Linked DNA regions of Homo sapiens. The protein of the gene in region 2 interacts with the protein of the main gene of each other region in a biochemical or structural test. Each region holds a gene or a part of one and is shown on either strand. Other genes may lie near its edges.

Evidence for each region.
Region 1: the proteins of NEO1 (region 2) and LTF interact in a biophysical measurement, tested with the Homo sapiens proteins (one large-scale study listed by IntAct).
Region 3: the proteins of NEO1 (region 2) and IGFBPL1 interact in a biophysical measurement, tested with the Homo sapiens proteins (one large-scale study listed by IntAct).
Region 4: the proteins of NEO1 (region 2) and IGFBP7 interact in a biophysical measurement, tested with the Homo sapiens proteins (one large-scale study listed by IntAct).

The regions. Positions count from the first base shown.
Region 1 is NC_000003.12:46,437,523-46,441,010, reverse strand, and holds part of LTF (lactotransferrin isoform 1 preproprotein), read left to right. Parts: intron 1-1,530; coding exon 1,531-1,715; intron 1,716-2,881; coding exon 2,882-3,071; intron 3,072-3,488. UniProt on the Homo sapiens protein: Transferrins are iron binding transport proteins which can bind two Fe(3+) ions in association with the binding of an anion, usually bicarbonate. Lactoferricin binds to the bacterial surface and is crucial for the bactericidal functions.
Region 2 is NC_000015.10:73,289,555-73,293,662, reverse strand, and holds part of NEO1 (neogenin isoform 1 precursor), read right to left. Parts: intron 274-4,108; coding exon 115-273; intron 1-114. UniProt on the Homo sapiens protein: Multi-functional cell surface receptor regulating cell adhesion in many diverse developmental processes, including neural tube and mammary gland formation, myogenesis and angiogenesis.
Region 3 is NC_000009.12:38,421,156-38,425,771, reverse strand, and holds the start of IGFBPL1 (insulin-like growth factor-binding protein-like 1 precursor), read left to right. Parts: upstream 1-1,317; 5' UTR 1,318-1,347; coding exon 1,348-1,807; intron 1,808-4,616. UniProt on the Homo sapiens protein: IGF-binding proteins prolong the half-life of IGFs and have been shown to either inhibit or stimulate the growth promoting effects of the IGFs in cell culture. They alter the interaction of IGFs with their cell surface receptors.
Region 4 is NC_000004.12:57,040,474-57,044,581, reverse strand, and holds part of IGFBP7 (insulin-like growth factor-binding protein 7 isoform 1 precursor), read left to right. Parts: intron 1-3,648; coding exon 3,649-3,758; intron 3,759-4,108. UniProt on the Homo sapiens protein: Binds IGF1 and IGF2 with a relatively low affinity. Stimulates prostacyclin (PGI2) production. Stimulates cell adhesion. Acts as a ligand for CD93 to play a role in angiogenesis.

The DNA.
Region 1 (3,488 bases), on a different chromosome or scaffold from region 2:
CTTTATGAAAAAGGAAGTAGAGGCCTTCATTCATCCCCATGTGAGCCTTGGTCTGGAGACTCCTTGGGAGTTAGTGGGAACAAAATTACAGGTGGTTGCAGATGATGGAAGATAATCTTCCAGCCAATGTTTGAACAATCACTCTCTCTCCTGGTCCTCAGCCATTTGCTACCTTCCAATCTGCATCTGTCTCCTTAGCCCCACTTCAGCATTCCAACCCCCAAGTCTCAGCAGGTGACTTGCTATTCTGTTTCCTGAGAAAGAACTGTCTCCACTTTCGGCCTCCCTCCTTCAGTAATCACTGCAGTCTCAGCCACTTCTCCCTTCTGCTTCTGCTCCTTCTAGTGTCTCTTGGGACAGAGATTAAAACAAGACATGTAAATTTGAAATTATTTCAATATCAAATAGAGGAATCCAAGAGAATGAATAAAGTGCTTTCTTAAAGGGAGAGAGCAGAGAGACAAACGGGAGCCGGAACAATGAGCCGGCATCTGCACAAACATAGACATGCATACAATTACATTTAGAATTTACAAGCCATTAACTGAAGTAATCTCCAGGGATCAGATTGATGTCAAATTTAATTTTAACTTTCTCCGGTACTTTACAACTGTATTTTGTTAGAATTGGCTGTATATATTTGATAAACCTATAAAAGTTCCTTTCCTTTCTCTGGTTACACTAATAGCATTTGAATATGAAAGGGAGGAGAAACCAATTTCTCCTTGAATGTAAACCATCTATTCTTTTTCTGGAACTCACTGAAAAATATGGCATAGGTGGAGGGTTTTCTTCTTTAAAAAAATAAGAACTCTAAACAGCTTTATTGAGGTAGAATTCATATACTAAAAAATCCACCCATGCAAAGTGTACAATTCAGTGATCTCCAGCACATTCACAGAGTTGTGCAGCCATCAACACAATCCAACTCTAGAACGCTTGTATCCTCCCATAAAGAAACCCTTGCACCTATTATCAGTCATTGCCCTATCCTTCTTCAGCATTGGCAACCATCAATCCACTTTCTGTCTCCATAGGTTGGCCTATTCTGGACATTTCATATAAATGGAGTCATATAATATGTGGTGGGTTTTTTTTTTTGAGATGAGGTCTTGCTATGTTGCCCAAGCTGGTCATGAACTCCTAGCTTCAAGTGATTCTCCCACCTTGGCCTCCAAAGGGCTGGGATTACAGGCATGAGCCACCGTGCCCAGCCTATTGTGTGGTCTTTTGTGACTGGCTTCTTTCACTTAGCATCGTTTTCGAGGTTCATGCATATTGCAGGATGTACCAGAACTTCACTCCCTTTTATTGCTGAATAACATTCCATTGCATGGACACAGCACTAATATTTGGTATATTTGAAGTTTGTACAGCTTGTGTAGGATGAAGCTCCTTCTCTGTTCCTCACATCACCACAACCCCAGTGTGTGCATTTGGGAGGTCAGTGGAATGGCCACACCCACCCAGAAGAGACTTCTTGGCTAAGCAGGGGAGGCGTGGATGATGCCACCTTCTTTTTCTCCCCAGGAAATAACAATGAGGCATGGGCTAAGGATTTGAAGCTGGCAGACTTTGCGCTGCTGTGCCTCGATGGCAAACGGAAGCCTGTGACTGAGGCTAGAAGCTGCCATCTTGCCATGGCCCCGAATCATGCCGTGGTGTCTCGGATGGATAAGGTGGAACGCCTGAAACAGGTGTTGCTCCACCAACAGGTATGGACCACAGGGCTTCTAGTGCTTTCTTAGCTGTGTGGGCTCATGTTAGGTGAGGAGATCACAGAGCTAGGTGCACCAGCCCACTCGATCCTCTCTAGTCCTCTACTTGAAGCTCATGGTGAGAGTATTGGCTTCATGCTGTGGCGTTGCCCAGAGTGTCAACAAGAACAACAGAGGCTTTTGACTCTGGGCTTTCTGGGACTCACTCCATTTCTGCTGAGACTCTGTGCCCTGGCCTTGTTGCCATCACTGCCTGGCTCAGAGGCTGTCTTTTTCCCTCCTGCTGTTCTTCTGGCAAATGAGGAAGCCACTGAGCCTTCCTCCCACATGCATTAGTATAGTGCTTTTTACTCAGGTGACATTTCCTGAACCTGGGCCGAGTGAACAGTGCTCTAGGCCAGGCCTCTAAAACAGCAAACTCAGAAGGTGCCCTATAGATTTAGGGCTCTCTAAATGTGATTTGAACGAAATCCCAAAATTTTCTTAAAATCTGGGATTTTATTAGAACTTCTATTTTTATCATATAACATCATGTCTCTGTGTGCTTTTGAAGAAAACAACTCAGGAATAACAAGACTGGCCACCATAACTGGCCTTTATGGAGCTCTTAATGTGCACACACAGTGGTGCTGGTGAGAGAGCTGCCGTGACTGAGGGGTTTGGGTCTCAGTCTCCCCACATGGGAGCCTGGGACAGAGCAGGAACTGTGTGAGGGAGGCAGGGTGACCGACCTGCACACTGAGCTGGTTAGTGGCTGAGCCTGGGTTTTCCTAGCAGCCTGCCTCTCTAGAAGAGCTGCATATTAGAATGTCCTGAGCAATTGACTTGTGAGGGCAGATCTCAAAACCCCTCCATTGTTGCCTTGTCACCCATAAGAAGTTGTATGGGAAAAGGTCACAGGTTAAGAAGGAAGGAAAGATGGCAGATGGTAGGAGGTAGGACCAGAAGTGGTGCGAGGCCTGGATGCTGCCCAAGGCGGGCCTGCCACCAGGAGTGTGGGGTGGGGGACTCCACTAAGGAGGTGGAATGACTCCAGAACTCAGCTCCTTCTGCCCCATGGTTTTCTCAGGGCTGTTCTTGGGTGGAAGAAATACCCCTTTGCCTCCTTTAACCCATAAATTCCTCTTTTCCTTAGCTACTCACTGTCTGCCCTTTTGTCGCAGGCTAAATTTGGGAGAAATGGATCTGACTGCCCGGACAAGTTTTGCTTATTCCAGTCTGAAACCAAAAACCTTCTGTTCAATGACAACACTGAGTGTCTGGCCAGACTCCATGGCAAAACAACATATGAAAAATATTTGGGACCACAGTATGTCGCAGGCATTACTAATCTGAAAAAGTGCTCAACCTCCCGTAAGTAGACCCTAGCTAGCATCCCCGAGAAACCACCATGGGTGAAGGTCAAGGTTTGAGGGCCAAACAGCATTCTAGGAACGAACACAGGTGTAAAAATGTTAAGGAAAGATAATATCTCTTTACAGTTCAGGAAATTATAATCTCATTGATAAAATAATTAGAGAATAAAATAGAGCAGTATGTAATAAATTTTTATAAATTTTATAGTACGGATAGTGATGGCACTGTCATGAAATCTTTGGAAACTGATAATCCATTTTATTCAGTAAAATGAAAGGTGCATATATACATATGCATTGAGAAATGACAAAACCAGCCACGTGTGATGGCTCACACCTGTCATCCCACCACCTTGGGAAGCAGAGGTGGGAGGATGGCTTGAGCCCGGGAGTTTGAGACCAATGTGGCCAACAC
Region 2 (4,108 bases):
AAATAAAACAGAAAAATTCCAAATCCCTCTTCTAAGTAGGGCAAGTCCTTCCCCATTTCTGCTTGCCGACTCTTTTGGAATGGTTTCCATCTGGGCTTGATCCTCATCTCTCACCTGTGGAATTGGCCCTGTCTGAAAGGGACATGGATGTGCCAATGGGCCATGGGCTGCCCGGGTGGTAGAGATGACTGCGAGCTGGAGAAGCGAGGCTGCTGGAGTGGAAATGATGGTGAGGGTTATCGAGGGAATGGATGGGATGGGCACTAATCACAGCTGTGAATGAACACAAGACAGAGAAATGCTTAACATGCTTGCACAAACACACACAAATCACAGTTTAAGAGCAAAGTCACCCCCTTCCCACCTCCCATACAATCCAAACACTCCCTTGGTTTTTTGGTGGCAGCTGGCTAGATCTGGTCAATTAGCCATTGATTTTTACGTTGTTTTTTAAAAATGAAGATACTCTTTTGCATATGTCTACATATATATAGAAAAAAAGGAATATACACTAAAATGTTAACAGTTATTATCTTGCAGGGAAGAGTGGTCAGGATTAAAATAATATTTTTCTTTTGGCTTATCTGTATTTTCCAATTCTACTATAATAAACATGGATTACATGAGTTATTACAAGTATCTATTTGAATATGTCACAAAATATAAATCCATAAGCCAACACATAAATTTTCTATTTTGTCCTGCTAAAAGGATAGAAAGAAGTCCCTTCTTTTTCGAGTACATTCCTAATTCATTCTGCCTTTGTTAAAACTGCTGAATGAAGCATTTAATGGGTATTTAGGCCAAATAAATAAGTAGCTGTTTAATCGGCTTTCATGTCTTAAAATAAATGCAAATGGAATTGAACTCTGATGGTCCCATCTAGTACTAAAAGCATGAACCACTGGCTGATGGCACCATCTTTTACTGCTTCCAGTCTGGGGACTCAGACATACCCATCTGCATGTAAGAGAATAAATGGCTCTTTCCTTCCCACACTGGCTAAGGATTCAATTAACTGCGTTTAGCTAAAGAATCTGAAATTTCCACACAGATTTCACATACTACTTTCTATGAAGACAGAGATTCCATGTACTACTTTCTATGAGGCTTCATTATCCATCTGAGATGGAAACAGATAAAATTAGAAGCCCAGAGTCTGAGAATAAACTTTTCTGAGGAACTCCCTTGGAGTGGTTGTAGAAATGGCACGTTTAAGATCAAGATAACCAGCTCTACCCCCACCAAACAGGCAAATAGGCCAAAGCTGACTAACAATACTGGGAATCTTTTTTTCTCCAAACAAAGGCTTCATGAACTTAATAATACTACTTAATTAACACTTAGTGGCCTATTGAAATGTCTTCTGTCCCCAAGGATCTCCCTAAAGTCTTTGTGGGGCTATTCAACATTACTCTGGTGAAAAGAAATCCTGGTCAACAAAATGGGTGCCTTTACTTTCCAGCTATCCCTTGTCCTGGCCACATGCAAGCAAGCAGGTGGCATGACTGGGACCCTTGAGCACTGCTGACCCTTCCTTCCCTTCTCAAGGCCTGAGGAACAAAAAAGGGGCTTTCCCTCAGGTGCTGCTCTTGGGGACCAGAGGCTCCAGGTTGTGCCCGGGAATAAAACAACAGAGGAAAGCTGTCTGAGGAGGGCTCTTGAGGTAACTGGGGAGTCAGCAACTCTAGGGGAAGACAGGTAGTTTTTAGAAGTAGGTGCTTCAGACTCAGTGTTTTCCAGAATTCAGGCTGGGGTAGGGGGAATAAACCTGATTTTTACCTAGGAAAGTACAATTTGAAAGCATTTTAGGACTCTCACAAGGGAAAAACAAAATTGACTTTTTCCCTTTTATAAGGCATTTCCAGTCTTTCTAGGTAAGTAAATAAAAAAAAATAAAGCAGTGTGAATGTGCCTGCCTAGGATATAGTAGGAAATCAGCAGCTGTTAGCTGACTCTGAACTTGTTGCTTCAGTGCATGGCCCTGGATGGAGCCATGTCCCAGCACCAGCAAACCCTTCCTGGCACTGCTCAGTCATTTAAGACCAGGGAAGGTGGGGAGTGGGTATATGGCTCCTGCAGCATTCCAGGGCCCAGAGCTCAGGGAATACCAGCTTGTGAAACAGAACTGTAGCCATGCGGGTTTTAAAAACAGTATCTGAAAACCTAAAGACCACAAGTGGATCTTATGGTTGCAGGTTTTTAAAAGATTCCACTTACCCACCCAACTGTTAAGGCACAAATTAAATAATATTGTATATTGGTGCAAACTCCTTCCCCAACATCAAAAAAAGAAGAATGATATCAACTGGACAACATATCTTTTTTACTTAACATATTTAAAAGTAATACATCTAGAAATAAAGATAGTAAAATTTTACAAGTTTTCAAAATAAGCCAGTTCAGGTAGGAACTCAAGTCTTATACAAAACAAACAAATAAGAGTATAGTGCTAGCATCTTCTTGATCAATCAGAAGCAACTGGGATGGATTAATTTACTCTTCTTGGGCATTTGTATCTTTAAACCTGGGAACCCCATCCAGGGCACCTCTTGTAAGAGGGAAACCATGGTTTTCCCCTGCATTTCCAAGTCCAGGCTTTTCTTTCCATCAAGGACCACAAGCATAAGCTACTTTGAGCTGAAATTACCTGTTAACAAATAGGGTATTACTCTTTCAAAGATGGTTTTTGTAATCCAGTATCTTACATGTTTGTGTACAGTGTTTGTGGGAGAGGGAATGCGTGTGCAGACATCCACGTGCTTGAAGCTTCCACCAAGAGGTTGGGGATTTGAGGAACTTTTCCAAGTGCACGATGTCATGGTGTACCTCGTTGCATGTATGATATTCATGGCTATTAAATCGCATCGTTTGTTGACAGATGGCTGAGAATTCCCTCAACTGCAAGCCCCACTGTGCTAGCTAGTCTGAAAGGCTTCACTTCCTTGAAAACAGTGACGAGAGAGGACATAGTAGTTTGAAAGAATCGGTTTGTCCCACTGCTTTCTGGTTTAATCATGATATTTATTTTGAATTTCAACTATTATTAAAAGAGGCTCAGAAACCTTTATGCTTATCAAAGTGAGGCACGAATCAAGAATGAAAAATGTTGTTTAAAAAATTCCGGCTGGGCGGGTGGTGGTGGCTCAGGCCTGTAATCCCAGCACTTTGGGAGGCCGAGTTGGGTGGATCATCTGAGGTCAGGAGTTTGAGACCAGCCTGGCCAATATGGTGAAACCCCGTGTCTACAAAAAACTAGCCAGGTGTGGTGGCGAGCACCTGTAATCCCAGCTGCTTGGGAGGCCGAGGCAGGAGAATTGCTTGAACCCGGGAGGTGGAGGCTGCAGTGAGCTGAGATCGTGACACTGCACTCCAGCCTTGGCGACACAGCAAGACTCTGACTCTGTCTCAAAAAAAAAAAAAAAAAAAAAAAAAAAATTCCACACAGTAAAACCTAAAGCTATTCTAAAATATAAAGTCTACTAATTTTATTTTTAAATTTTATTATTTTAATTAATTAATTTAGAGACTGGCTCTTGGCTCTGTTGCCCAAGCTGGAGTGCAATGGTGCAAAATCATAGCTCAATGCAACCTTAAACGCTGGGTTCAAGTAATCCTTCCATCTCAGCCTCCTGGGTAGCCTCAGCCTCTTGGGTAGCTGGGACTACAGGTTGTGTGCCACGATGCCTGGCTTTATTTTTTTTATTTTTTTTGAGACAGAGTCTCACTCTGTCACCCAGGCTGGAGTGCAACAGCACGATTTTGGCTCACTGCAACCTCTGCTTCCCAGGTTCAAGTGATTCTCATGCCTCAGCCACCTGAGTAGCTGGGATTATAGACATGTACCACCATACCTGGCTAATTTTTAATTTTATTTTTTTTGGTAGAGATGGGGTCCCACTACATTGCCCAGGCTGGTCTAGAACTCCTGGCCTCCAGCAATCCTCCCACTTTGGTCTCCCAAAACTCTAGGATTATAGGTGTGGGCCATCTTGCTTGGCCTTCAAATCTATTAATTAAAAAAATAAATTTCACAGGTGCTCATCAGCACTGGTGTCAGGCAGCGTAATGAAAACTTGTAACATCAGACCATCCTTAGCTCTAGTCT
Region 3 (4,616 bases), on a different chromosome or scaffold from region 2:
AATGAACCCCACCCAAGAACGGTGTAGCTGGTCTTCCCAGGCTGCAAGAGGCTTTCTCCATCTCCAGGAGTTCAGCAAAGAAAAAACAATAGAGCACAAGACACATGAGGGGTGGCCAGTAAAGGCAGGAAAAGTCTCCTATAAAACCTGCTCAGCGAGTCCCTCCCTCCATCCAGTGCATTTACCCAGCAACACATCAAATCCCAGCAGCCAAGACTCTCTTAGGTTTCTCGTCTGGGTGCCCTGCCAGAACTCAGGCAGGATGGTGTGCACAGAGCCTGGCCCAGAGAAGGCGCAACGGCGGCATGAATAACTGACTACAAGAAACTGCATCTTTCCAACATGCATTCCCCAGTAAGCCACAGGTACACTGACCCTTGTGCACCAAGACTTCATCAAAGCATTATTCGTATTAACCAAAGGATGGAAAATAAGTGGTTAAATAACTGCAACTAAACCCTGTGGAAAGGCCACTCTGTATGAACTCCAAAATATATCACCATATCTCATCACAACAAAGTCACTGTGGACGGAGATGTACCATGACTTTATGCAGCATTAAGAAACACACTCACAGAGCCAATGAACTATGCTCCCATTGATTGTATAAGAAACCCAGTTTCACAGATGACAAGAGGTGGGGAAACTGTGAAACACTGTAAGTGCAAAAACCAAGTGCAGACTAATGTGTATGGCACGCTACTCTGTGTGTGTGAGAGAGAAACAGAGTGTGTGTGTTTTAAAGGAAGGGGCTTTTTTAGGCACATGTACTTTTATAGGCATAGAGAAAATTTCTGAAAAGATATACAAAAACCCGATAGCAAGAGTGGCCTCTGGAAGCCGAGTTGGAGGATGGGGATACAAGGTGGTAGGGTAACCCTCTTTTCATCCTTAGATGTATATGTAAAATCTACATTTTAAACCATATATTCTCTTTATAAAATAAAACTTTGAAAACTACTGAATGCAAAATAAAATTAAATAAAATAGCGCATCCTTCTGGGAGGATTTACGGGCATACTATCTGGAGCCAGCCTTGGATCCGGAGACCGTACGGTTATCCAATCCTGACTCTGCCATAGCGACCTCGGGCAAGTTGTCGCCCCGACTGGGTCTCGGTTCCCTCAAGAGTCCAATCGGAGGTCGGAGAGCTGCTCTCGGGGCGACCCTCCAGCTCGGAGACCCGGGCCGCGGGCACCGCGCGGGTCCCGGGCTGGAGCAGCGGTCTGCGGGCGCCCCGCGGTGCAGGCCCGGCCAATCAGCGGCCGCGGGGCGGGAGCGGTGACTGCTCGGCGGGCGCGGAGCGGAGCGCGAAGCAGAGGCGCCGCCGCTGTCCCGGAGCAAGCCATGCCGCGCTTGTCTCTGCTCTTGCCGCTGCTGCTTCTGCTGCTGCTGCCGCTGCTGCCGCCGCTGTCCCCGAGCCTTGGGATCCGCGACGTGGGCGGCCGGCGCCCCAAGTGTGGTCCGTGCCGGCCAGAGGGCTGCCCGGCGCCTGCGCCCTGCCCGGCGCCCGGGATCTCGGCGCTCGACGAGTGCGGCTGCTGCGCCCGCTGCCTGGGAGCCGAGGGCGCGAGCTGCGGGGGCCGCGCCGGCGGGCGCTGTGGCCCCGGCCTGGTATGCGCGAGCCAGGCCGCTGGGGCAGCGCCCGAGGGCACCGGGCTCTGCGTGTGCGCGCAGCGCGGCACCGTCTGCGGCTCCGACGGTCGCTCGTACCCCAGCGTCTGCGCGCTGCGCCTGCGCGCTCGGCACACGCCCCGCGCGCACCCCGGTCACCTGCACAAGGCGCGCGACGGCCCTTGCGAGTTCGGTGAGTCAGGGTCGGGGATTGGGTGGGTAGAGAAGGAGGGATTCCAACCCTCTGGGGTGTGGAGCGAAGGATCCCCCTGCCCAGTGGTGGACGGCGCTGCCTGGCACTCAGTTTCCCCTTAGGGAGCAGTATTTCATATCTCTCCTCGTGCTCAGAGAGACTGGGGCGAGAATCCTTGGAGACGCCACTCACTGTGCTAGTCGAATTTTTGGTGAGCCTGCTACCCCTTTTGGTACTTAAGTACCTGCTGATGCAGTCACTTATTTGTAGGCATGGTATGTTTGCCCAGCAGGAGACTGGGAGTTAAGGAGGGGGATCCGAGTTCCCAGGTATCCAGCGCTAGGTGGATTGTTTGAATGGGGAGGAAGGGAAGTTGAGGTTGGGGGAGGAAGGGAAGTAGAGGATAGGGGAGGAAGGGAAGTTGAGGATGCAGGAGGAGGATGAGTTCCAGACTGGGGAATCAGTAGTCACCAGGCCACAGCACCAGAGCACCAGGGCCCCCGGTGTGGGAAGGGGCTGAGCTGGGATGCTGAGGGAGCTCCATCCAGGAGAAGTAAGACCTTTGGAGACGTAAGGTCTGAAAAGATTGTGGTGCTATTAGGGGCAGACTCAGGTTTCGTGCTTCTAAAACATATATAATTTGGAGAGTCCTGCCTTAAGTAAAGGAATAGAACTGCTAGGGACTTAGAAACTTATTATGAAATGCTAGGGACTTAGAAACTTAAGCTTCATTAACATCACAGTAAAATAATCTCTGAGTGCTATAGTTGCCCACCCTCTTTATGTACCTTTTGAAAACCAAACAAAAAGAAACCAAAACGTTAGCACTGCTTTACCGGCTTCCTAAGCATGAGTGTATTCCACCCACTAGGTTTTGAAGTGCCGCTGTGTACTTTGCCTGGAGTGGGCAGTGCTGAGTTTAGGGTGAGTGAGAAGGTGGCCAGTGAGTCCCAAGGAGCCTGGGTTTCGGCCTGGAGTTCAGGCTTCTGGGAAATAATTCTGGCCTGAGCCCAGAGACCAAGTCCAGACTTTAGTGCCTAAGTCAGTGTAATGACTTAGCTTCAAGAAAGAAGCCTGGGGTGGGGTGAGACCTTTCCAAGCCTTAAGAAGTATCTAGTAGTCTTTCCTCTCAAGTAGTTCAGGTAGATGTACCCAAGTCCAGGAGACGCAATGGGTTGTTGGAGATGGGGCAGGAAGCCTCCAGTCCTGGGAAATGTAAAACCAGTGTGTGGCCAGTTGAGCACAGGAAAGTCACCATTGGCTGTTCCTAGCTGAAGCTCCCCATGGAGGACAGAGCTGGCTGGGGGTGCATCTGTGCTGCCGCTGGCTCCCTGAGTGGCCCTGGACGGGTCCCTTCCCCTCTCTGGCCATATCAGCCCCAGTGGAGTCATTGTTGAGGTCCCTTTCACTCGGAACAGTTGGTTTCCGCCCTGTGGCACTTAAACAGTCCTGTCTCTTTCCTTTTGCTAGTTCCTATCACTCGTTTTTATAACTGCTTTCCTCAGCCGTTAATTCACAGGCAATTCTCTTTGTCTCCAGACAGGTAACACTTTTAACTCCACATGCAGGAGACAGAAGAAATGCTGACCAGGTCCTCAGACTATAAATGCTGCTGATGATCTCAGATAATTTCTCCCCAGAGTGGCATTCTCTTCCTAAGAGAAAGGCACCTTAAAGACATTCAGACCAAATCTGCTGTTATACAGAGAAAGAGACTGAGACACAGCAAGGTCAGAGCCCTTGTCCAGGGTGACCAGTAAAGGATGACCAGCTCCCTGGTCCCAACACCCTGTCCAGTGCTCTTTTGGCACAGGACTTAATAGTATTAAGTCAGGCAGATGGTGGTTACCATGGTTACCAGAGTGAGGCCAGATGGCAGATGGAAACTCCATACCCCTAATTCACTGAAAATTACCAAATGACAAGTAAATGTGACAGCCCCTTCACTCTGATCTATGGGATCTGAGGCCCACCCCAGGCACAGACCCAGGGAATAAAGATATTCGTGGGGCCACATGGAAGCAACTCAGAACTGGTTTTCATGATCTCATTACTGACAGGCGTCAGGCCTCCCCGGGGTTCAGCCCTTCTTCCGCACCAGCCTTTGTGTCATCCACCACAGAACCGGGCACTGTTTGCCTGTCACTCTCTGTCCTGAAGTGCTAGTGTGGCCTCTGCCCTTGTGTCCAGATAAAGCATGAAGGTTTGGACAGGGGATGTTTCCTAGCCCAGGCAGCAGCTCATTCTGTGCTGCCCTAAAGCCATCTTTTATTCACAAGACACAGCGGGAGCGTTTTTTAACAATGCCTCTGGGGATCCCGGTTGAAGGAAAACAGACTGTGAGTCAGAGCAGGGCTGTTCTGCTTCAATATTCATGATAAAATCACCCCTCCTGACTCCTTGGGTACCCAAGCACCTAGATTTCATGGAATGAGGCCTCGGGAAGTATTTATTATGTTGTTCACAGTGTGTGAAGGGCCCTTATACATGCCTCTGAGGAGCCTGGGGAAGCAGTTTTCAGGCTTAAATTCTGCCCTTTCCTCCTATGCCCTGAAATGCCCCAAACTGCCACATAATGAGAGTGATCCTTTGATCCGCACACATGTATGGAAGACTCACATATGAATAATTCTTACTGTTGGAAATTGCTTTTGCATCCTTTTTTTTTTTTTTTTTTTTTGAGACAGGGTCTCACTGTATCTCCCAGGTGGAATACAATGGCTTGATCACAGCCCACTGTGATCCTGGGCTCAAGGAATCCTCCTGCCTCAGCCTCCCAAGTAGCTGGGACTATAGGCACATACCATCA
Region 4 (4,108 bases), on a different chromosome or scaffold from region 2:
GGATGTCCTTTTAGGGGAGGAAAAATGAAACTTGACCTCTGCCTCATAGCACACACAAAAATTAATTCAAGATGGAGCAAAAACTTAAATGTGAAAAGTAAAACCATAAAGCTTGTAGAAGAAAACAGGAGATCTTCATAGCCTTGGGCTAGGCAAAAATTTTCTTAAACAGGACACGAAAAGCACTAACCACAGAAAAGAAAACTTGATAAATTGGACTATACTAAAACTAAGAACATCTGTTTTAAAATCCCATGGGAAAAATCCATAGCATGTCTTCAAGATCTCTGGCAGAAAATCAGGCTGGAACTTGCCCATTAGCACTCCAGAATCTGCCCCCTGCCCAAGACCGATGACCCTGCTACCTGTATTGGCAATAGGGAGATGGACACAGGTTAAAGTAAGTAGGTTTTGGCAGGGCTGAGGCCCTCAGATCCTCACAATAAAATTGTCTTGCATTCCTTGTGTGGTTTGGATATGAGAGAAGCAGCTTTGTTCCCGAGCTCCCCCTCAAATCTCTGAAAACTGGTATGCTCTTCTCAGAACAATCCTTTGAGATCCCCTGAGCTTTGAAGTCCTCCTGCCAAGTCTGTGTGTGGGAAGGAGAACAGAGCAGCATGAGGGCCATCAGAGAGGTGGGCGAAGGCAGTTCAAAGCCCAGCCAGATCCGGCTCTGTGGTGTCCAAACCCTTGGGGTCCCATAGCCCTAGAGGAAGCCCGGGATAGGGTGAGGCCCAGCCCTTTGCAGGGTTCTGTATTGCTGCATCCAGACTAGGAAATGTCTGAGACAGAGCCAGAAACGTAAATACTGCACCACTGTGCTCACCACATTCATGTTTGCAGCAGAAGAGCCAAGCCCCCTGGCCAGGATATATGCTTCCTATTCAGACCTATGGTTTGGAGGGAAGGAAGCATGAAATGTATTTAGAGCTTTCCAAACTTTTGATTGTTTTGCACATTCCTACAAAAATAAAAATATCCCATGAGATTAAAAAAAATCAGCTTCTAATGCTTTAGATGAGTGGGAAAATCTTGCACACTGGGGTCATTTCCTTTCTGTTTCAAGAAATTAATATTGTGCTGGAAATAGCCTGTTGCAGAAGGGGAGACTTTATGTCCTTTGAATGCTGATTATGCCAGAAAACTTTCCAGTCCTAAAGGGGAGGTTGTCCCTTTCCCAGGACTCTGATGCAAGATGACCCTGCAGTTTGTACTTTGCTAGGATAGGAGACCCAAGTCAGCAGAGATTTAAAATTCAGAAGGGATCATTAATTTATTCATTCAAGAAACCATGCTAAGCATGGAATAAGAGCCAGGTTAGGTTCTGGAGTCTCACACTGCCCCACATGAGGATCCCAGACTGCCAGCTCCATGACCCTCCTCTGCGGACGGTCCCAAGTCTTTCTGAAGGCCCCTGGTGATTGAACCCTGGCATTCAGAATTAGCAGAAGTGACATACTAATTACCAGTAACTAAAAAGTTGGTGTTCACATCTCTATTGCAGATGCCGGGAAGCCAGGCCGTCAGGGGACAGGCGCAGTCAGCAAGCACCCGCTCTCTCGGTATCTGTTGGCTTCCACAGTTTTGTGTTTCAGAGCCAAACCAGAAATCACCCAGGGGGTTACTTGCATCAGCTCTGGAAAATGTGTAAAGGATTGAAGTCCTGAGACTTTCCCATAATGTCTTATTTAGGCATCAGTCTCCCTCAGTTGATTAGAGCAGGAATCAGCAAATTTCTTTATAAAAGGCCAGTGACAGTGACTATTTTAGCCATACAGTCTCAGCCACAACTGCTCTAGCAGCCAGAGACCACAGGAAACAAATAAGTGTGGCTGTGTTCCAACAGAACTTTATTTTATGGACATTTCCTTTACAATTTTCACACGTCATGAAATATCCATCTTTTAATTTTTTTTCAACCATTTGAAACTGCAGGCCGGGCATAGTGGCTCACGCCTGTAATCCCAACACTTTGGGAGGCCAAGGTGGGGGGATCGCTTGAGCTCAGGGGTTCGAGACCAGCCTGGCCAACGTGGCAAAATGCTGTTTCTACTGAAAACACAAAAATTAGCTGGGCATGCACTTGTAGTCCTAGCTACTTGGGAGACTGAGTCATGGGAATTGCTTGAGCTTGAACCCGGGAGGCGGAGGTTGCCGTGAGCCAAGATCATGCCACTGCACTCCAGCCTGAGCAACAGAGTAAGGTTCTGTCTCAAAAAAATAAAATTTTTCTTAATTTAAAAAAACAAAAATCCAAACACCATTCTTAGCTCATAAGCCATGCAAAAACAGATGGCAGGCCAGATTTGGCCCACAGGCCATAGTTAGCTAACCCAGGACCAGAGAGTCATACCACTTTCATAGCAAAAAGGATACACATGGTTTGTGTTGACTCTGAGTAGGGAACTTCTCCAGAGGGTGCCATGATACAGAAGGTGGGGGGTGTGTTCCCTAATTGGGGGAATGGAGAAGCATCATTCTGGCCTCTCTCAGTGGCCCCATACCTGCTGACTCTATTTAGGCCGTGGCTTGAGGGTGCCCCCCACTTGCCAATGCCTCCTGCCAGGGACCTGGACACTGAGAACGCTGGGAAAGGGCCCTCTCCTTGGGGACCCTGGTCACACCCAATAGATCAGTCACTCTTCTTCCTTCTTACCAGCTGCCTCTCCTGAGCACACTGGAAGAAGGACCCCTGTACCACCTTCCTCGACACCCGGGCCTCTTCTGTTCAAAGGTGCCTCCTGGCCAGGCATGGTGGCTCACACCTGTAATCCCAGCAGTTGGGGAGGCTGAGGCAGGAGAATTACTTGAAGCCAGGAATTCGGGACCAGCCTGGGCAACATAGCAAGACCCCGTCTCTACAAAAATAAAAAATAAAAATTAACTGACATGGTGGTGCACGCCTATAGTCCCAGCTACTCGGGAGGCTGGGGTGGGAGGATCGCTGGAGACCAGGAGTTTGAGGCTGCAGTGAGCTATGATCAAGCCACTGCGCTCCAGCCTGGGTGGCAGAATGAGATTCTGTATCAAAAAAATAATAATAAAATTAAATTAAAAATAAAGATGTCCCTTCCAATCCCCTGACGCACACAGCACTCCACATGTTTCTTTTCTTCCCTGCCTCATCACCCTTTTCAACCTTAGATCCTAAGCTTCTTGAGGCAGAGACTTCCATCTTGTCTGGGTGCTTAGCACATTTTCAAATATTCTCTTAGATTTTTTTTCTTCATTACCCATGGAGCGGTTGCTTGTTGCCTTTCCAACCCAAAATAGAAATAGTGGTAAACAAAAGAAGAAAAACATTGAACATTTTGGAACTAAAATTTTATTACTACTGGAAAAGTCCCAGATAATAAAAAAACAGCTGGTAAATTAGCACTCATTTAAGCATGGTCTGGGGAAGAAGAAAATTTTAATAACACATTTTTCTTCCTAATTGTTTTTGTTTGTTTAGATTTATGCATTCCCAAAGTGGACCTTAAAATCATGTTGGTGGCAGGAGGAAGCCAGTGTGGTCTTTGAAATTTGCTTCAGATAATCCATCAAGGGGATGGCCTCATAAACAAAATTATTATTTTCTCCCTAAGATGCTGACTCATGTGAAGGACTGTTTAAAAGATGACTTTGGCTTTGTGCCCTCTCCTGCAGGTCCTTCCATAGTGACGCCCCCCAAGGACATCTGGAATGTCACTGGTGCCCAGGTGTACTTGAGCTGTGAGGTCATCGGAATCCCGACACCTGTCCTCATCTGGAACAAGGTCTGTGGCACAGACTTTAAGAGACATCCTAGGCTGACAAGCTTCTCTTGCACTGCACAAGGATGGTAAAACGTTAAATCCTCAGCCTGCTTTGTTGACTGCGGCTCCCGCAAGGTGAAGCCTTAGGGCAGTCATACAGGCCCCTCCCCTGGATTCATGGAACAAAAACCAGTCCCTGCCATGCTTTTGTTAGCAGCATCCTAGAATCTGAGAAACTGGAAGAACAATAATGCTGAACACCTGAACCCACCTTCAGGGTGTGTGTGCACCTGTGGTGTGTGTATGTGTGTGCATATGTGGGTGCGAGTGAAAGTGTGTGTGTCTGTGTTTGCGCCCTCAGTGGAGACAGT